Linked DNA regions of Homo sapiens: region 1 is linked to region 2. Evidence: fine-mapped expression QTL. A gene starts in region 2. The other region holds a variant in brackets. All regions are shown on one strand. Distances are from middle to middle. Region 1 overlaps TARID (TCF21 antisense RNA inducing promoter demethylation). Region 2 holds the start of TCF21 (transcription factor 21).

The links. PIP is the estimated chance that this variant, and not a neighbour inherited with it, causes the effect.
Region 1: its variant is fine-mapped to the expression of TCF21 in atrial appendage (GTEx, PIP above 0.99).

Annotation. Positions count from the first base shown.
Region 1 is chr6:133,843,812-133,855,896 of GRCh38, reverse strand. It overlaps TARID (TCF21 antisense RNA inducing promoter demethylation), which reads left to right. Exons shown (of 9, transcript NR_109982.1): 2 at 9,946-10,020. LINC01312 (long intergenic non-protein coding RNA 1312) reads right to left here. Exons shown (of 3, transcript NR_027030.1): 3 at 1,905-4,700. Among named protein-coding and RNA genes, the nearest start is that of LINC01312, 29 kb to the right of the region's middle. RefSeq lists an enhancer at 985-1,723. The variant T/C (reference allele first, on the strand shown) is at 5,556.
Region 2 is chr6:133,882,031-133,894,115 of GRCh38, reverse strand. It overlaps TCF21 (transcription factor 21), which reads right to left and starts at 5,003. Exons shown (of 2, transcript NM_003206.4): 1 at 4,269-5,003; 2 at 1,859-2,403. The coding sequence starts at 4,718. The coding sequence ends at 2,314. TARID (TCF21 antisense RNA inducing promoter demethylation) reads left to right here and starts at 5,110. Exons shown (of 9, transcript NR_109982.1): 1 at 5,110-5,512. RefSeq lists enhancers at 1,032-1,640, 2,526-3,290, 4,542-5,455.

The sequences.
Region 1 (12,085 bases), 38 kb after region 2:
AAAGTGATTAGGTTTACTTGTTATCAACGGGGAGTTCTTGTTCAGAACTACGTATTTTAGGTATCTAAGCCTGCATATTCTGATAAGACAGCATTGGCCTTAAAGCTGAGGCAGCAATAAATTACATTAAAAGTAATAGACTTCTGGAAAAATAATTCCTTTTGATTGCATAGCAGTTAGAAATTTACCTATTTATGTTTGTGCGTAGATATTTAATACAAATGTCTCTGTTTTTAAAGGATTTTAATGTAGCACCTAATACACTAACAACAGAAATAAATAAAGTTCGGAAATACAGAACGAATGAATGTGGCAGTGGTTTGTTCTTTTCACGTTAGAGCTGTAGGAGCAAGGCTTGCAGGGTTTTGGAGCGGATCTACTGCAGAGTCGCTGAGACACCAAGGGTTGTCTGCTGTTAAGAACCAGTATATTTTAGTTACATTTCATATTAAGTGGAATTAAATTTCACGTTCAAATCACTTGTCAGCGCTTAAAAAAAAAAGACTTCTAAACGACCTCTCAGATATATGACCCGGATGCTGCCAGACCAAACGACTTTTATCCAGGTGGACCCTTCGGGGGTACTGGGTCACCTGCAGGGTAACCGGGCAGGATCTCAGATTTGGTGACCGTCCCAGAAGCTGGGGAGAAGGTGCCGCCAGAGAGTGAGCGGAAATCTCCCTTGGAGGCCTGGAGGCAGCAATACGAACCCCTCAAGCCGGGAGAGGGCACCCTGGCTGGCTGGGGCCGGCAGCGCTGCAGCCTCACGTCCGCAGGTGAAGATGCGCTCCCGCTGGGCATGCGCGCCCCCTGGGGCCAGGAGCAGGTGGGAGGTTCCTACCTTCCGCCCCAGCACCGCCTGAGGTCAGAGGGACTGTCCTTTCTTGCACTGCCCAATTTGTCAAGGTCCCGTATCGAATAAATAGCTGTCTCCCCAGACCTTTATACTGACTAATCCAAATAAATCGCAGTCACTTTTACTGTGCGTTTCAGCGGGCAGCCTGGCTTTAATGGCTCTGCCTCCTAGACCTCCGGGGGAGACTCGCCGCGGCTTCTGCGAGATCGTCAGCTCCCCTGGCTGGCCTCAGAGCCTCAGCCTCCCCTCTGGGTTTCGTGGGGTCACTGGGAGCGGTCGCAGCCCATCCCCTGCACGCTGGCACTATCTGCTGACTGGAGTTGCCCTCTGGGGTTCCCAGGGCTAAAAGCGAGGGTAAAGCCTCCCATCTTCAATGTGCGCCTGTCTAATGTGGGCTCTCCTCTGAGATCTTGTTTACTCCCTACCTTTCCACCCTCTTCCCCTGCTCCTCTAAACCTCAGAAATTCGAATTATCTTCCCCATTCCACTTAAACCCCTTCGGCCAATCAATCCGGATGTTACCGATTTCCTCTGGGATATTTAAAGCTTTGATCCGCAGGCTTACAGCTCCATCTTACGCACTCCCATCTTTCCCCTCTGGGATCCCTCTAGATGCCTGCTCAAAATACCTGCTGGCGCCAGAGGAAATTCACATGTAACAGATACCCAGCGGGTGTGAAACCAGCACTCTGCTTCCAGGGTCGTTTTCCTCCTCACCTTCCCCATCAAATTGTCGATTAGTGAGTGCTAACACTAGGCATTACTGTGAATCATGAGTGCGGGGCTGGAAGATATGGAACCGTTTTAATAGAGCCGATGATTGCTAACTTACACGTGGCATCGCGCACTCCACCCTCCCCTACTCGGGGCAACCCTGGGTGCCCGACGTCTGTAAAATTAATATGAGCCCCAGGATTGGTCCGCAGGTAGCTTTTGTAAAGGGGTCCAGAATGACTTCAAGCAAATTTCAAGATATCTAAAGTAAAAGATAATTATTCACTTGCTTCTAAAACTGTTACTGAAGTAGAAAAAAAATCAGAGGAAAGCAGTAAATCTCACTCATTTTATTTTGGTGAAAACAAACTACTAGGAAGATTTAACAGGTAACATCAATTTTGCAATGAATTTATTCCAGATACCTTTTATATTTCATATATAAGGTGAATTATCCATGAAAATAACCACTTTATATGAATGCAGATGGCCAGGATGTTGAAAAAAATGAAATTGGCTTCAGAGAGAAACAGTAAATATAAAGGGAGACACACTTTCCCTCCCTAAACATTTGCAAGAGTGTCAGGTAGGTTTTATTTGAGCAAATAACCTTATTGTAATATTTCTTTTCAAAAAAGCAAAAACTGGTAGTCCATTCATAAAACTTTTTTTTATTGTTGTCGTATTTTCTCATTCAATTTGTTATTTAATATCTGATCTTTTTCAAATTTTACACTTTACAAATCATTTGGCATACATGTGATTATCATCAAAACTGTTGAACTTTATAAAATACTGAAAAAAAGTATGTGTTGTGTTTATATTTCTAAACATTTGAATTTCTTGGGGAGATAGTGGATAATCCCCAGTGGTTTTATTTGAAAATCTCACCTGACAATTGTCTTTCAGAGGAGGTGTGGCTCTGGAGTTGTTTCTGCCTGGCTCTGTCTTTGTGCTGCTGACCAGAGCTCTAGGCTCTCAGTAGAAGCTCACAGAATTCCTTTTGATTGATGGCGAGGGGTGATGGCCTACGCAAAGGTCTCTACTTCCAACTTCCCTGTCTTCTATGGCGGCTCCAGATTAGCTCAGTGGGTGTGGGGTGGAATTTTCAGTCAAGATGCATGATGCCTCACGGTTTACTTTCTACTATAGCATCACTCTTATGGTTAAGAACTTCTGGAATGCTGTTGAGCAGTTTCCCCATTATCGATTTTGGAGATCTTGGCCTATGTTATTTAGAGATGGGTTTTAAACAGTGATAAAGTTAAGGTACAGATTTACACTGAGAGTTAGTAAGATCTTCCTTTGGAAAAAGATCTACCACATTTCAGAGGTTTGGAGCTGTTAGTTGAGCCAAGAATGACATATAATTTTTGTTACTTGAGGTCTTTCTTGTTTATCAAGTTTTCCAGTTTGCTTTTCTGCCAAACAGAAATGGCAGAAAACATCAGCATATGAAAATTTTAACTAGAAGACAATATTGTCTAGGTTCTGGGAAAGCTAGGATGATTTTAAGGAGAATACCAGGGAGAACATAAGAAATACTTTACAAATTACATTTAGATGTCAGTGTTATAATTGTTTCCTGAACCTTTTAGAGAACTTGAGGGAGGAACTAGGAGCAGGAGGGAGTTTCTTAGGATTATCCAATTAGATTTCTAAGTTTTCCATTATAGATTTTTTGTTTGTTTGAGACAGGGTCTTGCTCTGTCACCCAGACTAAAGTGCAGTGGTGCAATCACAGCTCACTGCAGCCTCAACCTCCTGGCCTCAAGGATTCTCCCACCTTAGCCTTCCCAGGAGCACACTATCACGGTTGGCTAATTTTTGTATTTTTAGAAAAGACAGGGTTTCACCATGTTGCCTAGGCTGGTCTTGAAGTCCTGGGCTCAAGCGATCCACCTGCCTCGACCTCCCAAAGTGCTGGGATTACAGGCACGAGCCAACAAGCCCGCATATGGAATGTATTTGATGGTTTAATTGTGCAAGGTCGGTTAAACTGATTGGATTTTCTCACTCCAGAGTTTGGTAGGTGGCAGAGCATAACACTGTTGTTTGAGATATTAACATCCTAAAAATAAGTCACTTTTTGATAACACCTAAGGTAAAATTATTAGCTTCAGGTTAATAAAGCATGAAAACAAAGTTTCATTTTGTTAAAGCTGAGGTAAGTTATTATAGCATTAGAACAGACAAAAAGGAACAGCAAATGAATGGGGAATAAAATATTAAGATCAAAACAATAATTTAATGCCAATTGTGATGATTGTATCACTTTTGATTATCTTCTTTTGAAAGTAAAATTTTAAAAAGTGTATTTTACTTTGTAACTGTCTCAGTATTTGTTTTTTAAGGGAGAGATTAAGAAAACCCTTAAAAACAGTTTTGAAATACAGGAATTACATTATCAAAAAAGTACAGCCAACAGTAGTTTTCTAGTGAATTTGAGTTGTGTAGGAAATTAAGTAGGTAATGGTGCCTCCAGATAACAAATCTAACCTCAGATAATTATTCAAGCCTCCTCTCCATGTTTTCACCAGAAACCTCTTGCTCACTGGCAGTCACTCCTATTCTCCTCTCCTGACCCCAGCCCTATACAACCACTAAACTATTTTGTCTTTGCAGATTTGCCTACTTTAGAATTTCATATAAATTGAATAATACAATTTGTGGTCCTTGATGGCTGGCTTCTTTCACTTAGCATATGTTTTTGAAGTTCATACATGTTGTAGCATGTATCAGTAATTTATCCTTTTTAATGGCTGAATAATATTCCATTGAATGGATGCACTGCATTTTGTTTATTCATGCATCAGTTGGTGGGCATTTCGGTTGTTTCCATTTTTTGACTATTATGAATAATGCTGCTGTGAACATTCATATCCAAGTTTTTGTGTTCTCCGCCTTGATTATGTAGATAGTGCCATGCATGGCTTGGTCTGTATGTCCATGTGAGATTATGAAAATTTGCTCTCTACCTTGAAAGAAATAGAATTCTAACCCAAGTTTTTCCTGTTCATTTACCAGGCTGAGAGTTGTTTTCTCTGATACATGCATGTGGTTTATCTCTAAGAAGTACCATCGGAATGAAGAGTTGTCTATTTATTTGAACCAGTTGGAAACAAGGGATCTAGAAAACAGAAAAATATTTGTTTTGTTTGCAGATAGGCAAATTAATATAATTAACCAAATTAAGTTACTTTCAAGTGTTAGGAACTAACTATGTTTGCTTATGGACTTTCCATCTGGTACAATTTGGATGATTATTTTTTGATTCTGCTAATCCCTAACTCTTGGATGCTTGCTATTGTAATTCCTATGCAGAAGGCTCCCGATTTACAATGGTTTAACTGAACAATTTTTCAATTTTACAATGGTGTGAAAGCAATATACATTCAGTAGAAACCACACTTTGAATTTCGAGTTTTGATCTTTTCCTGGCCTAGCAATGCACAGTAGGATACCCTCTTCTGACACTGGGCAGTGGCAGCAAACTGCAGCTCCCAGGCAGCCACGATCACAACAGTAAACAACAGATACTACACAGTGCACTGTAGTCAATAAATTACATGAGATATTTAACACTCTATTATAAAATCCGCTTTGCATTAGATAATTTTGCCCAACTGTAGGCTAATGTCAGGGTTCTGAGCACACTTAAGGTAGACTAGGCTAAATTATGCTATTTGGCATATTAGGTGTATTAAGTGCATTTTCAACTTATGATAGTTTCAGCTTACAATGGGTTCATCGGAAGGTAACTCCCATCTTAAGTCAAGGAGCATCTGTATTCCCATAGAATATGCATCTTACACTTTAGGTAGTGTTCTATTCCATTTGGTAAGCATAGCTTCTTTAACCTTTTTTTTGGTTTGATCCTATCAAGGAATATCTAATTTCTATGGCAGCAGGCTTATTTGTTTTTGTTTGTGTGTGTGTGTTTTTAGGAGGTTTAGCAGAATACTTCTGGTATTCTGTCTTGCAA[T/C]GGTGACGAATCTGGCTCACCATGTATTTTAAAACAATTAATGTTTCCAAAGTAGAACTCCAGGGACATAACATGGTATGATATTGGATTGTATGAATGGCTGTTAACACTTATACATGTTCTCTGTAAAAAGGGGTTATACATTCATCCAACAGATATTTATTGATTTCCAACTATAGCTATTAAAATCTCTGCTTTAGGATATTATAAAAGTGTTATTTATTACACAGATTCACCTAGCACCTCTTAGACTATCTGAGACCTTTTGGAACTCAAAAATTACATGGAACATGATCTGTAGCACACAGCAGTTCACTATCTTTGAAATAACGAATGTAATTCCAACTGAATTAAGGTTTACATTGCGCAGAGTTAATTATAGAGCTAGTGGTTATTACTACATAGTTAATACACATTAATAATTGCAGATAATTCAGAAAACTTACTTTGGTAGGATCAGCAACACTTTTGCAAAAATCTCAACATATATCATTTGTTTTGTTTGTTTGTTTTTTGTATTTTTTTTGAGATGAGTCTCACTCTGTCGCCCAGGCTGGAGTGCAGTGGCGTAATCTCAGCTCACTGCAACCTCTGCCTCCCCGGTTCAAGCGATTCTCCTGCCTCAGCTTTCAGGGAGCTGGGACTACAGGCACATGCCACCACACCCAACTAATTTTTGTATTTTTTGTAGAGATGGGGTTTCGCCATGTTGGCCAGGCTGGTCTTGAACTCCTGACCTCAGGTGATCCGCCTGCCTCGGCCTCCCAAAGTGCTGGGATTACAGACGTGAGCCACTGCGCTTGGCCAAAAATCTCAACATATATAATGTTTCAAATAAAATAAAGTAGATCTCTTTCAATTAGCAAGAAAGAATCTTAGACAGATTCTAGTTATTCAGGCAGCTATGGCGTCAGGGTTAAAATAATAACCCCTGAAAAAGATGTCATTGACTCTTTTATAATCTCAGCAATCCAGATCCAGTATTTATATTTTGTTTGAAAGAGAACATGGGCTTTCCTGAACTGTGTAAGCTGTACAGTTAATGCAATAAGATTCAACAGGATTTTAGAGCTTTCCAATTCCCTTTCTCTCATGTGTGATCTTGATTAAATGCATCTATGTTCTAAGCCTTGATGCAAGCTTTATCCCTTACCTTGAAGTCTCTTTTTAAAAACTTGTATAGGCAAGAAGTGTGTTTTGGAATTGGGTACAGTTAGTTGTCTGAGTCAGAATTTTAAACATGGCAGCATGGTTCTTGCAGTATGGAGTTCAGGTGAGGATACTTCACTCAGTTGACATCTTAATGGCTAAAGCTTTTTACTGTTTTGTCCTGACTAGCACTTCAAAAGATACTCTACACAGCAAACATTCCCTTAAGTGTTGGAAAGCTTGGTTCCAAGTGTGCTTCTACATGGAACCAAGGATATTTGGGTGTTGAATACTGTAGGAAGGTTCTTTGGTGCAATGAAGAATGTCGGAACTATTTGACAATGTACTTGGGCACACCAGACATAGGATTCTTCATTGCACAATTATTCTCTAGCAATTTTCTTTGCAAGAAAAGAGACCTGACTTTCTTTCATGGATATAAATAAACTTAATATTTCTTATAGCTGTGCATATTTATCTTCTTAATGACACAAATTTATAACATAAATATGTTATTTACATATCCCAGGACAAGTAGCAATTTATAACATAAATATGTTATTTACACATCACAGGACAAGTAGCATCTTGACAAACTGTCCTCAGAATAGAATACAGTAACTAATAGAATACAGTAATTAATCTTTGTGTGTGTGTGTGTGTGTGTGTGTGAAAACAAACACTTCTTTAATAATGACTTTTGAAAAAAATGATGAAAAGTTATAAATGAACAGTCAGTGTTCAAAAGAGGTTTCTGTGATTTTTATAAATGCATAGCATCTTACAAACACTATAAATTAGTTGGTGGATATTTAATATGATAGAAACTATTCCATCTGAATTTTCTAGGGAGGTCAAAGTTACTTTGGTATTGTAACTCTTTTAAGCCAAATTAATTGGGTTATGTTTCCTTTTTTTTTCTTTTTCAACTTTTATTTTAGGTTCAGGGGATACATGTGCAGGTTTATTACATGGGCAAATTTCATGTTGCTAGGATTTGTTGTATAAATGATTTTGTCACCGAGATAGTGAGCACAGTACCCAAAAGGTAGTTTTTTGAACTTCTCCCTCCTCCCCCACTCCACCTTCAAGTAGGCCCCAATGTTTGTTGTTTCCCTCTTTGCACTCAATGTTTACCCCCCATTTATAAGTGAGAACATGTGGTATTTGGTTATTTGTTCCTGCATCATTAGTTCACTTAGGATAATGGCCTCCAGCTGTGTCTATGTTGCTGCAAAGGTCATTTAATTCTTTGTTATGGCTGCGTAGTATTCCATGGTATATATGTGCCACTTTTTCTTTAGCTAGTCCACCATTGATGGGCATCTAGATTGATTCCATGTCTTTGCTATTATGAATAATGCTGTGATGAACATACATGTGCATGTGTCTTTTTAAACTATAGGTATTTTGACATTAGTAGTATGCAAATCACTTTCTAAAACCATTGTATAGACTGTCTAATGGTTTCCAGTTAAAAGACACAAAGATAAGTGAATAAATAAGAGAATGAATGATGGAATAAATATACTATAAAATCCAGATGTCTGTTGTCTTTGCAGGAGGGAAGAAAAAATTTATCATGGACTTTTGAATCTAATTAGGAAATTTGCATTTTATCATCTTCTCTCTTGTTTCCTTGCACTATAAGAATACAAGTTACTATTATTACTACCTGGACAGTTAAACAGTTTGGGCTCTTTTACTATACAGGCATTAAGGCTCATGTTCTAGGGAAGAGGGAATGAATACTTGGAAGATGAGCACGTATCTCATTGGGAATTTAAAATGTTTTAGTTTAATTCTTTTGTAGATTCTGTGTTAATGGGTGGGGGCTGGATCTTGATGAAAATACAGAGGACAAAGCAACTGTCATAAACACTGATCTTCTCACTTTAGGAACCTGAGCTCTATTATTGTCTAAAAGCATGAGTGCCCAGTAAATGTCCAATGATTGCTTGAATAATTACTATGCGTTCAGATATACAACTCTGTGCTTTTGTGTGTGCACATGTGTGTGAAAAAAGGAGATATAAAAGAACTTGAACTTGCCACTCTGTAGTAACTAACAAAATTAGGTACATAGTGCTCAAAATAAAATTTCATATTTAGGATTGTTAGAAGAATAAACAGAAAGAAAATTATTAAATTGTTAATTTTGTAATAGGAGACAGAATAAACTCAGTTTTCACTATAGTACAGTATTCTTTTAGCAGCAATCCTTACAAAATATCAACTGAAAATCAATTACATAATTTTTCCTTCAAGGAAAGAGCTCATATCTTTGGTTTCTATTACTCCTGTGTTTTTATTGTCTTTGTATATTTAAAAGATGGGCTAGGACATCAATGGACAAGTCCTTGGAACATTAAAAACTATTATTCTAATTTCCTTCTTTTAAAAATATGCATATTTAATCTATTTTGGAACAATTTGGAAATTCAGGAAGCATAAAGTAACAGATAATTATAACCATGACTCAATTCTGATTAAATGTCATAATATGACTATCTTTCTTTTTTCAATGGTTGCCTCTTCAATATGCTAAGTAATGAACACCTTCTATACATTACACATACAACGGAAAGATTACAGGATCTCATTGTGCAAAATTGGTATAAATGAATGCCTCTTAAACTTCTGCTACTTTGCATGGATAAACAGAAATAATAACAAGTATAACAAATAGACCAACATTTCTTCTTTTATTTTGAAATTGAGGGAAATATGTCCAGCTGGTGGTAAGAGCTACACATTGTTTTATTTCAGAGGAAATGGAACTTTAAAGAGTTATCTGTGTTCCTTTGGGTTGTAAAACTTTCAAAATATGTACTAAAACAAGAAATAATAAATTATTGTTGTATACAGTTCTTTTTTCCTAGGAAAGAACAGTGGAAAGCTGAGAAATTATTCAGTTCAATTGAATCACTCTTATGAAATAAAAAATGCCGCCCTAAGAAACTGTGACTTTTATTTCAGATAACCCAAACCTGTCAGGGTGAACCCAATCTACACCATCACTTAAAGCTGACAGGAAAAAAATGTATACTATAACTTTTAGTTTAAAAAAATACCACTATGTATGTTTTTATAAATTATTCAGTCAGAATTAAAAAATTATGTATCATTCAATATTAACTGAACAATTCAGAATAGCAGGTTTTTGTAGTTAATATTTGTACAAGCTTCTAATAATTATTAAAATGGCCTTTATTTGTTTTTTCTTGCCACTGACCTATAGGATATACTAAAAGAAGACAGATCAGTCTCTCTCCTGATAAGAAGAGTCACCAAGAGGAACATCTGCAACAACTAGGTTGTGAGGAATTTCTTTTTTAAATGTACATAAAAATATGTTAATGTACACTGCCTTGGGTAGATGAGATGTGTTATTTCTTTAATAAGTTTGCAAACATTTACAGAAAAACAGTACTTGCTTCTTTATTTTTTGTAAAGAAAGGAATTAGTAAAAATGGAAGTTCCAGAAAATGCTAATTTCTTAGAATAAGATCTGTTTAAATTTTTCCAGTGCATAACAAAACACTTAAAACATTTTTTCAAACATTAAATTTAACATACTATGTTTTAGAAAATATGTGAAAGCAACCTGGATTTAGAGGGTTTAGATCAAGCCTTTGAAGTATCTTAAATCTCCTTGAGACCTAAAAGACTTGTTTATAACTAACAGTTGCTTTGTAAAAACAACATTATGAGATGTTTGAAAATTTTCTTGTTAAATTTTTATAAGAATATTTCGGTTGGGGAAGGAAGCATCTGTATTGCAAGATGATTTCTATTATTGATTTATTTAATCTCAGGAATGGAGAACAGGATGCCTTGCAGGGAAGTTTATCTGTGACTTGTAAACATGAAGCGACTAAAAATATGGAAAGTTCTATCATCTTTGGATGGGCCTAATAATTTCTCATTATGAGTATAAGACTAGTGATATGGCATCTTTAGTAGATTTTTGTGTGTCTTTTTTTTTGTAAGACTACTGGAACTTAATCCTGGTTCACCCAAGTTTGAGAGTACACTGTGAGACTATTGAACAGATCAAACCTACTAACATGTAATTTTCTCCCAAGTTTTGCTTTTAAAGTGATCAGAATTTATTTAAAACAGATTGACATAAGAAACTTATTTGGAAATAAAGTCTGCATTAGTATTTGGGACTATTGATAGGGAGAGAATTTTTTTCTAAGAAAAACATTTCACTGTCTTGTTGTATAATAGAAGAGAGTTTTTCACATTTGCTCTGTGCCTCACTCACTCTTGGCTATGTACTTTTGTAACATTGTCAGACTTTGCAAGAGAAGGCCAAGGAACAGAGGGAGATTCAACAAATATACCACATTCCAAAATGCCGAGTTCTTATTTCTCTACTATGAATTAGTCTGCTAGTCATTTATTTCACTAATTAAGTCCTCCAGGAAAATGTGAACTTAAATTTGTACAGCTGTTGAATCCTAAAGTAATAAAACAGTTAGGTTTTAATTAAGAGATTTAGTAGAGGGTTCAATATACTTTGCATGTTACTTATATTATTAATATATACTTTAGTATATATTAATACTAATATAAATATATTTAATAAACAAATATATTTAATATTAATACATTATCTAAATCTATTTAATGTATATTATATATTATCTAAATATATAAATATAGATGAATTGCACTTATTTTTTCTCTGTTCGATCACATACGCATTCTAGAATTTTCAGAATTGGTTGCAGTGACCCCCATCGTTTTCCTCCTATTTTCTCTAGATTCATTATTCAGACTATTAACTTATAGTCTCCAATACTTTGTCCTTACATCTCAATAATAAATGTATTTTGATCTATTTCTTTCTTTAGATTTTGAGGGCTTTATTATTACAGGGTAATAGTCCTAGATTTCTTAATATTTTGGGAATTCTATCGTGAAATTACTGAGTGATTTGGGGAAAGCTATTTTTTTGGGAAGAATTGCTTTGCATTTGGTGTTTAGTTCTGTGTTTTTAGTCCTAAACCCTATACTCATGACAAATTGGACATATTTGTGCTTATGTTGAAAAAACTGAATTGAGATTAATCTTTTTCTTTTTTTTTTTCTTTTTTAGACAATCTTGCTCTGTCACCCAGGCTGGAATGCAGTGGCACAATCTTGGCTCACTGCAACCTTTGCCTCCCTGGTTCAAGTGATTCTTCTGCCTCAGTCTGCTGAGGCAGAAGTAACTGGGATTATAGGTGTGCACCACCATGCCCGGCTAATTTTTTGTATTTTTAGTAGAGATAGGGTTTCACCATGTTGGCCAGGCTGGTCTTGAACTCCTGACCTCAAGGTGATCCATGTGCCTCAGCCTCCCAAAGTGTTGAGATTATAGGCGTAAG
Region 2 (12,085 bases):
AGGCACAGATAATTCACTACCCGCCACTTAGTAAAAGTAACTGACATTTTCACGGAGCTTTTCCTTTACCAAGGGATTTTACAGATATAATCTCATCTGAGCCTCACTAAGCCTCTGTAAGATGAAAGAGGAAGGTCTGCATATAATGATTATTATCATTCTCATTACCGTTATCCCTGCTTGCAGAGATGGGAAAACTGAGGATCCAGGCTCTTTCAAGAAACAGCTAGTTGGATGCAGAACCAGGGTCAAATCTACGTGTTCCCTATTCATAGCCACATGCCTCCTGCCTAAAGCAAAGGCTTCAAATTATTGGTAGGGAACTATAGATAGCCATGAAGACTTTCTAAAAATCCATGTATAGATTGGGGTTGTAAGGGAATGAGCAAGAAAAAGTTATTTCTCTATGGATGGCCTGCCTGGAATCCTCAGAATTTAGAGCATTCGTTTTGTAAAAACGTGAGTGGGAGATTGGAAAATTTGCGAAACGTGAAAGGCAATCAATTGAATCACACTGGGGACTCTTTGATTTGAACTCTGGATAGGTTGAGGCATGGGCTCTATCCCTCTGGTAGAAAGGAGAGAACACATGAATTTGAGGAACGGGACTCTGGCCAGAGCTTGAAATGTGTTCTTGAAAGTCAAGTTGGGGTGGCGGTGGTGGGGTGATGGAAGGGTATCCTGACATCTTGAAAAGTCCTCCATGTGCAAATAGACAGGTGGATGAAGTCACCGAAGTTCTCAGCCCTTGGAGAATGGGGAATTGCGCTTGGTAATGTGGTCGCCACCCCTTGGTAATGAGGTCACTATTGCTGACAGAGAGCACACCTGGCAGAGCAGCTTCTCCAGTCGGGACCAGCCTAGCGGGATCCTTCCTCCATGGCCAGGCAGAGGGCTCCACCCGCGAAGCGGCCTGTGGGGTTGGTGGAAGGGCGGAGAAGCTCTCGCTCCAGGTACCAAACTAAGCCGAGAAAAAAGGGTAAAAAATCGAAAAGAAAGAGCAAATGAAGCGGAAGTTTCAAGGCTCTCTGCGAGGAATAACAGTATAAATAACCGAAGACGTCTTGTAAACACTGCGGTCATAACCCCGAACATTAAACAGCCCCGGTGGCATCTGGCGCATCGGCCGCCGCGGGCTGCGCTGGGGCAGTGAGGGAGCCGGGTCGCAGGCTCCTCGGCCTTGCTTCTCTGTTTATCTCAACTTAATCTTCCCTTAGGAGCTGTTCCGTAGCCTGGAAAATGTTTAAATTAAACCCAGTCCGCCGGAAGTCGTGGCGGGAGCTAAACGCACCCGCTAACAGCAACCAAAAGGCAGGCATGCGGGTTTATTGTTAGAATTAATTAATGGACTATTAATAAGAAATGTAGATAATGTATGCTGCAGAGCTTTGAAAATCCTGAAACACACCCTAAGGGTTATGGAATTTACATCTTTCATAGCTTCTATTATTTCTTCACTAGTTTGCAGCTATGCTCACACCTGGAAGGTGACAAAAGGTGGAGTTTACTTTCTCGCCCGTGTCAGCAGTCATACGGTGGAATCCATGAAAATTGGATTTCCTTTTTCTGGTGCGTTTTACTCTTGAACTGTATAACTGTGGATAACTTTAATACTGCCCATTCTTTGTTTTCAGTTATATAATTTCTATTAGCCTTAAAAGTAACCGATATATTTCTTTTTTAAGGTTTCAGTATAAAACATAATCTGCATCTTCATTATGAAACTCATATGCAATTTTCTTCTATCTCTAGAAGTTTAGATTGAGGTTTAAAAGAACCATTTTCATTATCAAGCTTCCCCATAGTTTCCCACTTTCTTATTCCAAATATTTTTAAAAATCACTCCAAATATCAGAGCTTTTAGCAATATAAAGAAAGATTTATTTTCAAAAGTAGCAAAACTTGTTTGAAAAAAATATATATCTTTAAGTGAATTACTTTATAAATGTGACTGTCAAAGTCAGCTATCCTATGATCTACATTTTACAACATATTGTACAAAAGATACATTGATAGGCTCTTATCTATTTATATATTTATAATTACATATTGCACTTGGACCAGCAAGGCTTGCAGAGTCATTCACGGTAGAAGTTAATAAAGTTAAATAGATGGGAATCTTTGTAAGTACAATTGATCTCCTCTGGTTTGGAAACGAATCTCCTCGTCGTTGTAAAGTGTTCTCGCGGGGTGGGACAGAGAGAGGAGCATTGCGAGGGGGAAGCAGAGACAGAGAGCACTGAGGGCAGGGGTCGCCTTCCCGGGGCCCGCTCCCCCCGGGAGCGCGCCTTTCCCAGACTCGCACCTCCAAGGTCAGGACGCGGTGGTTCCACATAAGCGGCTCGCGGTCACCACTTCTTTCAGGTCACTCTCGGGTTTCCCGGCCACCATAAAGGGCCACGTCTGCGGGAAAGAAGAGGGTGGAGGAGGTAAGTGGCCGTGGCGGAGGGGGTGGGGTGGACTCGGGGCCTGAGATGAAAGGAAGGGGGGCGGTGGGGGCAGGCGGTGCTCTGGAGAGACCGGTTATCTCTGCAATTTACTCCCGGTCCTAGCGCACCCTGCGGCTGCATAAAGCAAATAGCTGCTTTGGCGCCAAGTCACAGCTCGAGGTGGTGGTGGTGCTGGTGGTGGTCTTTTAGAATGAGAGCCAAAAGGGCTTATACTGGGTTCCTTGTGAGACTCAATGCAGGAAGCCCCGGGCAAGCCGAGAGTGGGAGAGTGGGTGGTGCTGTGGCACTGCCTGGAGGCAGACGCTTTGGCAGTCTGAGCCGGGAAGCCCAGAACGACCTTGTGCCTACTGGGCACCGAGTTCGGGGCGAAGCGCCCTCCTGGCCTCCTTCTGAGGCGGTGGTCGGGTTTCAGGGCCCTGTCGCTTTCATCGCCTTTCATCACCATCTATTTCCCTAGTCCGACTTTCGTTTCTTCCATCGCAAACACCGGCTTTGACTACAGCTTCTAGATTAATCACCACCTCTTAAGGAAAAAAAAATGCTATACTACATTGACTTTTAATTTAAGATCGTCTTCATGCTGGACTGAGAAAGTATGCTTTCTCTTCCTTTCTCCGGGCTGTTTTATAATAAAGCTCATTTAAGTTTCTTATTCAAAGATGAAGAGAGTAGCAGTTGTAAATATTCGAGGCAACACTTTCATTTTAGGTGGAGATTTTAAAAAGCTATTTACTCATTGGGGGGGAAAAACCCCAAACTTTCAATTGGAGAGAAAACATTTTTCATGGTAAAATGTGGGTTTGCATCTTCTTCTCCAGCAATTCCAGAAACCAATTCGGTGAGAAGACAATTCAGACCCCTCTCACTACTGCTCTAGTGCTAGCTGATAAGACTTGCCTTTTAAAAGGAAAAATCTCTCATTCTTATCATATACAAACAGAGATCCTAGTAAGTTGTTGTTATTGTTTTTCTTTAGATCTTAGAAGTTTTAAAATAAAATCAAATGAAAAAAATTAAGATATATTTCTTAAACAGTAAAATACATTTGAGAAAAAAGTAGACTCAATGATTATCAGTTTTTTGTGTTAAAAAATTAGGCTCAATGGGCATTACTTTTTAAGATAAAAGGTAACATTTCTTAAATCTTGGGTGAGAGTGACCTATTTTAGTATTTATTACACTCATACTAGTGAGGATTTACTGATTTTGCTGATCATTACTAGAACTTCTGGGATTTAAAAATATTAATCCACTTATAGGAGAAGCACAGAATATTTAAGCGGTTAAGGGCTTACGTGGACAATTTGGGGGGCATAGATGTGTCCTTATCCAATGGTCCTAAATATGCTTGTGAAAGAAACGGAGTTGGGTGTTTTTATTTACAAGGAAAGGAAAATCAAGTTCCACTCTCTGCTAAAAGAAGAAAAAAGGATTAACAAAATGCCTGTCCGCTCGCAGCGTCTTGTCAGTGTTCTCAGTTCCGCAGCAGCCACTGCACCCCAGGGAGGATGGCGATGGAGCGGGAGCGGGGGATCCCTCCTCTGTGCCAGCTCAACACACTTGCAAACTTTTAATTGGGCTGCCACGTCAAACCCTCGCATAAATCACTCCCGCTCCGGGGGCTGGTAGGGCAGAGAGCGAGGGCCGTGTCTAGACCGCCCGCCTCCGGTCCCTGGAGGCTCTAGGCCCGCGGTGGTCGAGATGTGTAAGTCACCGCCGCGCCCACACCCCCACTCCCAGCCCCGCGCGCACTCGCGCCCACCGCAGGCGGGAGTGCGGGCGCGCCTGGACTGCAGCTGCAGCCCCGGGAGCACTCACCAGGTTGACCGGGTGAATGTACCCGTTCTCGTATTTGTCGTTAGCCAGGATCTGCCTCAAGTGGGCGATGTAGCTGGACGCCAGCCTGAGCGTGTCCAGCTTGGAGAGCTTGGTGTCGGGGGGCACCCAGGGCAGGGTGGTCTTGAGTCTGGAGAAGGCCTTGCTCAGCACTCGCATGCGGGCCCGCTCTCGCGCGTTGGCGGCGTTGCGCTGGACCTGCTTCCCCTCCTGGCTGACCCCGCTCAGGGGGCTCTTCTTGGTGGGCGCCTTCCTCCTCTTGCCCAGGCCGCCGCGGCCCTTCTGGGGAGACCCATTCTCGCAGTTGGAGCTCTCCTCGGTGCTCTCGTTGGAAGTCACAAATTCCTTGTTCGAATCCATTTTCAACCCGTCACATTCCAACATCTCCACCTCTTGAAGGTCCTCCACATCGCTGAGGGAGCCGGTGGACATGTTTGGGGGAGTGGACGAGGGAGAGAGAGAGAGAGAGACAGAGAGACAGAGAAAGCGAGGAAGAGGGTGAGAGAGAGACAGAGAGACCCTGAAACCAAGAGGCCTCCCGAGTGTGGCGCAGCCACCTCCTGCTGGGAGCTGGAGTTGGGGTCTGGTTGGGTCTCACAACCCTTTCCCCTTCGCAGAGTTGTGAGAAGGAACCCCGAGGACTTCTGCAGCAGAGGAACCGGCTCTCTGTTTCCCCACTCCCAGAGTCGTGGCCGTAGAGGAGGGTGAGCGAGCGCTGAGGAATTTGGTGGACACTAGGAATTTATCTGGGGAATAGAGGGGCGGATCCTTGCAGCCCAGGGAGGGGCCTGCCAGGCCCCAGCAAAGCGCTTAGACCCCTTTCACAACCGGAGGGAAACTCAATGCACAGACCCTGATTTGCAACTTGTAATGTAAATCAACTCAACTGCATCATGTACTTACCAGCCACCTTCTCCCAACTGTGGCCGGGGCCGAGAAGCAGCATGTTCTGTCCATCTGTAAAAGGCCTTCTTTCTCTCTTAAGACGTCACAACTGGTTGTTACTGAGAACTTTAGAAAAACGACTAGATCGTTTGGCTCTTTCTGGGCCTTCCACCTACACTCCATGCCCTCTCTCCTCCCAAGAAAACACGAATTAAAATACAGGGAGTATCAACCGCATCCTGCCAACACCTCATAAGACTCCAAGGCTTTACCGAGATCTTCCACCTTCCCCGGGATAAATGAAGACAAGTGCTTCCTAGAATCTTTATGGTGATGGAAAAGTAAGTATAAAACATTTCACCTACACCTGGTCATTTTCAAGACATCAAAGGACTGCCTACGTGTACACAAACATACTTGATTTGCACACTCAAACCCAACCACACACAGCTTAGTGGGAGTGGGTAGGGAATGAGAGGGCAGTATGAGTGTGTGGAAAACATTATGTTAGTTGATCATCTTTTCCTAATAAATGGAAACTTTCCCCTCGGTTTTTTTTTCTTTTCTAGAAATGCATTTAATATTGCCTTGAGAGTCTTTGTTGCTCTCAGACATCACCTTGCCTGGCACTTTTTGTGATGCACCGTCCCTTTCAATGCTGCTGTCTTTGTCTTCTTCCAGCCTGTTAGGTGCCAGTGTTCCTCACATGAAGCTGACATTACACAACACAAAGCAAGACTATCCTTTTGAGAAAGGTTCTTTTCCATCTTTAACCCCAGCTCGAACCACCTTTCCTAGAGAATAAGAAAGTCTCCTGGGAAGTAGGTAGAAAAAGCACAGGGAAACAGAACCTAGGGATTGGATGAAATTGGTGCAATGAAACCAGGGAGACTGAAGGCATAAATCTCTCTTACAATTTCTTTGCCAGGTTTTCTTCCCTTGCAGGTAGGCATTGAAGTTGAGGGGCTGGAGCAAAATGTAAGAGTGGTTTCTGAGTGGTTGGCTTAGGGTCTGAAGGCTTCTCCTACATTAAGATATCATATCTCTAATCCTAGGCTCAGCTGGGAATTCACTAACCTCTAACGTTTTGTTTTGCTAGCAGGGTCTTGTTTGCTTTCCCCCTATGCTGTAAACTAAACAGGTTGTCAGCAAATCAGTCTTTATTAATGAATTAGCGACCCCTCTTCCATAATATCTTCGCTGAGGATCCAAAATTTGTTAATCACCAGTGTAGAGATTTATGAGCTCTCTTATTTTCTGTTGTTTGTGCAGGTGGAGATTTAAATGACCACATCCACCCTAAGATTTATTGTGAGAATGATTGATGTTATAAACCAGGAAAAGGACTCTTCCCACAGCAGGGATGACAGAAATATCAAGTTGAAGTTGCCTTTGTCTTCACATACGAATGACCCAGTACTACAACACAGAAAGTATAATAATTTAATCTGAGGTTCAAGACAGCAGTGAGAGAACACCCAGCAGGCCTGTTAAAAATTTCTTCACTAATTCCTCAACTAGTTTCCTTTGATTTGCTCTCCCTTTTCTCAGTCTTGGTAAAACATGAAAGTTAAAGTTATTTTTAGACTAAAGAGCTATGTGAAAATGGGCATTGGCCAATACTTTGTGAAATGTGTGTGTGTGTGTGTGTGTGTGTGTGTAGCTACTAAGATATCTGCAAAATAACTACAAATAATTAATTTGGGCTCTGGAATGTGATAATTATTATAAATCCAAACTATGGCCTTACTGCATACATTAAGCTGTGATTTTTCTTGTTGGAGCCATTTTTTTTTCTTTTTGGCTCTGGGTCTCTGTTACACCTTAGTTAATGGACTGCTCAGGCTGTCTGGGGAGATAGTAAAAATCATAGTAATATGTACCACTGAAAAGATTTCTGTTGTCTGTATATTTTTCAATGTTGGAAACTTAAAAGTACCAATTTCTGGAAGCATGTAAAACTAGCCTCATGTCATAGGCTGGTTTTTATGCTTAGCAATTATTTTTCTTCATAGCCATATAAGAAATAATTAAGTCCCATGTCCATTTATCTTGCAGTAAGACATTTGGGCTGAGAAAGGCTAGTGGGCTGATAATAAATTTTGGAGTGTTTCTAAAATTCTGTAAAAGATGGCTTCCAGTTTGGGAGTAAGAGTCGAAGAATACTGTTGCTTATGTATCTTGATATGAAGTCTTGGAGAGAGAATATTCATATGAAAAATACTTTTTTTCTTTTAAAATTTTGTGTCTATCCCTGCTAATAAACACTTAGGGACAAATGGGTGGGAGAAATGACTTCTTGTTGGATTCTACTGAGCAAGTCATTTAAGCTGTAACTTAAGCTGTGCCAAATTCTCCCAAAATATAAACTATATTCTGTGAGAAGACAAGCACTTTTGAGAAGCTGTATTAACCCTTTTGGTAAGTTGACCATTTCTGTTCCAAAGCACGAAATAGAAAACTCGTGATTTGAAAGTATGAGATCATTTCTAAAAGTTCTTACCTGACTTTTAAGAAACATTTATGCCCCAGAGGCATCTGGCCAATTTGCTGCTCACTTCTAACAATTTGTTTTGCAAGAGAGACTATCTTTGAAAGATTTTAGTGCTAAGGAAATTTTATCTCTGAAAGCTGTAAAATGAAGATTAGGCATGGAATGTACCCTTGAACTTAAATCCTGGTTTATCAGCTGATACATTTACAGGAAGTTCAAATTTGATTCAGTTGCACTTGGATGGAATAATTTGCTTCCTTTTTTATGAGAAGGAAAACATCATAGGCTTCCTTTGAACTGACTTCATATGCCATTACATAATCTTTCTCAGGGGAAAAATATGCCTTTAAATTTAAATGTTAATCCTTTTCTCTTACTCCTCATCATTTGGTCAGGAGACACAGGCTGGCAAATTGGCAAAACTGCCCATTCTCTTTTTTCTTCATTTCTAATTAGCACCTCCAGATGTTTTATTCATTTTATTTGATGGTAACTACCACCACTTCAAATATTTGCCAACTTTCTATGCAAAAAAAAGTTGACGCCTTTTTTTTTTCTTTTTTTGATGGAGTCTTGCTCTGTCACCCAAGCTGGAGTGCATCAGCACGATCTAGGCTAACTGCAACCTCCGCCTCCCAGGTTCAAGAGATTCTCATGCCTCAGCCTCCCGAGTAGCTAGAATTACAGGTGCCTGCCACCATGCCTATCTAATTTTTGTATTTTTAGTAGAGGTGGGGTTTCACCATTTTGGCCAGGCTGGTTTCAAACTCCTGATCTACCCACTTCAGACTCCCAAAGTGCTGGGATTACAGGCATGAGCCACCGTGCCCAGCCAGGTGCCTCTTTTTTGATTTTACATAATTATCTCCATATACTTTGTTTGCTGCTGATTGACTGTTGTCTATCTCCCGCTTATATGCCTATCAAACTCTGACTTTGTTTCATTAAATTTTAACTTTATTTAATAAAGTGAGCATTACCTCTCTTTGCTCATTCTAAATTATAGTGGTGCTGTCCTGTTATATTTTGGCAGCCAAAGTGAATATGGCACTAGTGAGCTTGGTGGCTAGCTAAGAAGGTCAATAACAGTGATGCTGGGTATTGCTGCTACCTTTACCTGGCACCAGCTGGGAGATGGTATAAATCCTGGATGGTATAAATCCATTCAGTAATTAGAAGTCTTCTGCGTGTTCACTATACCTTAACCCCCTCTTTTCACATTTAATTCAGTGAATTGTAGATAAGATGCCACATTGCTAAGATTTAAAGGTGGCAAATAACAACAATAAAGTCTAGGGAAAGATTCTGCATGGTTCTTTGAATCCAGGAGTTAATCTTGCATTTCACATGTTCCACAATACAGCTTTGAAAGCAGCCAAGCCTATGCACTTGAAAGTCAGAATTTACCCTAAGGTGTAAGTGGGCCAGAGAAAACTCGGGCAGACAAAGAGAGTTAAAAATTTTGCAAAGCCAGTTTAATGTCCTCCTAAGTTTTCTAATACTAGAATAATTTTATTAGACCCTGTCAGTGTTAGGAAAGAGAGAGAAAAGGACTGAGCGACTCCTGAGTCAGGTACCATGCAGGGACTTTTGCCTCCATTCTCTCATTTCATGTATTTTCTCTCCTTTCTGTTGGCACTACTAAAGAAAGAGCTGCCACATGAAATGAACAGTGTATTAGAAATGTATGCCAGAGGCTTTCCCCTGTAATAAAGTTTTAGAAAAACTGGCTTGAGTGATGACTATTCTGTATCTTAAAATAAAGCTTGAAAGCAAAACCTCCCAAGCTTTCACAAAAAGAATAAATCTTCTAGGTTGTATGGGAGACCTCTGTAATGCACTTATATGTTAAATATAGTTTATTGATGGGCATAAAACAATACAGGCCAACTTGCTGTCAGCCTCCTTCCTGTCAGCTTGGGAGAGTATGGGCACTGGAATCAAAGGCTCCTTCGGGTGATTACCTCTTTGGGATTATTTCCTGGTGGCAGGTGCTTTCAGCTTTGAGGAGACAAGAGTTGCAGGGTTTAGATCTTAGGACCAGCAGGAAAGTACTGAGTGTGAATCCTGACTTTAGGAAGATGAAATATTTCCAGGTGATGAAGCAGTTTAAAATAGAGACACAAAGTAATAGTTTGTCAGAATTGGATGGGGCTGGGGACCAAGGAGGCCATAAATAATCACAAACTCTGTTCCAGTGAGGTATCAGGGACAGTACTGCCCACCTGACCCTGTGTCCTGATTTGCCTCGTATTATTCCTTCCACTGAGTCACATTGCCATGAATGGTTTTTGCTGTTTGAATAATCATAGTAAATGTGAGAAAGCTTCTATTCTGTTATTCCCTATTTAGAATATGTAACCATTGATCCCGAAATTATACAAAATGAGATAGACTTGAGCTGTCCTGGGATATAATGCTTAGAACCCTGTCTAAGATGGTTTAAGTAACGTAATCGCCAGAAGGACTTTGTTAAAATAAAAATCTCATCTCTACCGTAGAAACCTGATGGGCCATCCGAGGGCCACTCATTCAACTAACATATCCCCAAATCTGCCCTCTTCTCACCATTTCCTCTGCTAAACACCGGATCGAGTCACTAAAGTCACTCAGATGATAACAGTCTCTTAAATGGTCTTTTTGTTTCCATTCTTGTCCTCTTAAAATCTATTGCCAATACAGTGGTTCAAGTCATTCCCCTGCTTAAAATCTCTTAAAGCTTCTCATTGTGTTTAATATAAAATCCACACTTCCTATTGTGGCTTGTATGACTGGTTTGCTTGCTACCCTTTAACCACGCCGGCCATGTCTGTGCTCCTCCAAGACACAACACCCATTCCTCCCTCAGGACCCTTGCCTTGCTGGTTTTCCAGTTTGGATGTTTTTGTCCGGCTCTCTGCATGGCTGAGCCCTTAGATTTCAGGTCTGAGCTCAACTGTCATTTTCATGTGAGAACTTTTCTGAGCATCCAATGAAGAATAGTTTTGTTCCATGATTCTATTTTATTTATTAATAATAAAAAGCAGTAGCTAACATTTACTGTTTATCACATACCAGGCACTGTTCTAAAGCCCTTTCCAGTTTAACAAATTTAGCCCTCATAAAAACTTTATAAGGTAGGAACCTTATAGATGAGAAAACTGAAACACAGATAAATTAACAAACTTCTTTAGTTCATAAAATTAGTGTTCTAGTCGTCTATTGCTGTGTAATACCCAAATTAGTGACTTAAGTTATTATTATTTCTCTTGGTTCTATGGGTTGACTGAGCAGCTGGGTGGTTCCCATGTGGGGACTGTCATGGTGTTGCAGCCAGAAGGCATCTTACCTGGCTAGAGTCATGTAAAGGCTGGACCAAGCTGAAATCAAAGGGGACTTCTTCATTCACACATCCAGGCCTCAGCTGGGATGGCAGGAGCAGCTAGTTCTGGGCCAGCATCTCTCTCCAGACGGCGTCTCCATGTGGCTTCCTCAACCTGACAATCTTAGGTGGCTGAAGTTCTAACACAGTAGCCAGCTTCCTTCAGAGTGAGCATTCCATAAGACCCAGAGGCAAGACAGAAGTCTTCTTATGACCTAGCCCTGGAAGTTACACAACATCACTTCTGCTTCATTCTGCTGGTCAAAAGTGAGTTCTGGGGCCATCCCAGATTGAAGAGCAGGGCTTGTATGAGAGCATGAATACCAGGAGGTATGGTTCAGTGGGGGCGGTGGGGGGTTGAGTGGGGGCCATCCTTGGAAGTTGGTTACCACAGTGCATAAATGCCAGAGTCTGGACTAACACACAGACAATCTGACTCTTGAGCCTTCACTTTAAACTACCATGTTCTGAAATTATTATTTTTTAAAATTTTGTTTACTTTGTTATTATCTCTCTGCCAACCCCTCTCTAACTATGATGAAAGCTTCGCGAGTACAGGGACTTGATGTGTCTTGCTCAGTTGTGTACTCAGAACCTAAAGCAGGGCTAATATATAATATGTACTTAATAGTTGTTGAATTAATGAAAGAATGAATGAATGAATGGATGGATATTTTATCTTTTATCTTTTTAAAAAAATTACTCAGCCCCCAATGTCAGATATTTTAGATTTTAACATTTGGAAGGTACACAGTAAACTGTAAAGTATAATAATTATTTAGAGTACTAATAAATCTTCAAAACAGAGTGGCTCAGACAAGCCACAGATTTACTTTTGTCTTTCATATCAATGCAGACCTAGGCAAGTGGATGACTCTGCTCCATAAGGACACCCAGGGATCCTCGTTTTTTTCTACCTTGTTACTCTCTCATCCTTTGGGGGGTGACATACATGAGTGAAGCCAGCTTACCTTCACCAGCCCCGAGGAAGTGCGAAAAAGAGGATGGAAGGCAAGCAGATTCCTTGTAATAATGGGATCTGAAAATTATATATATAAG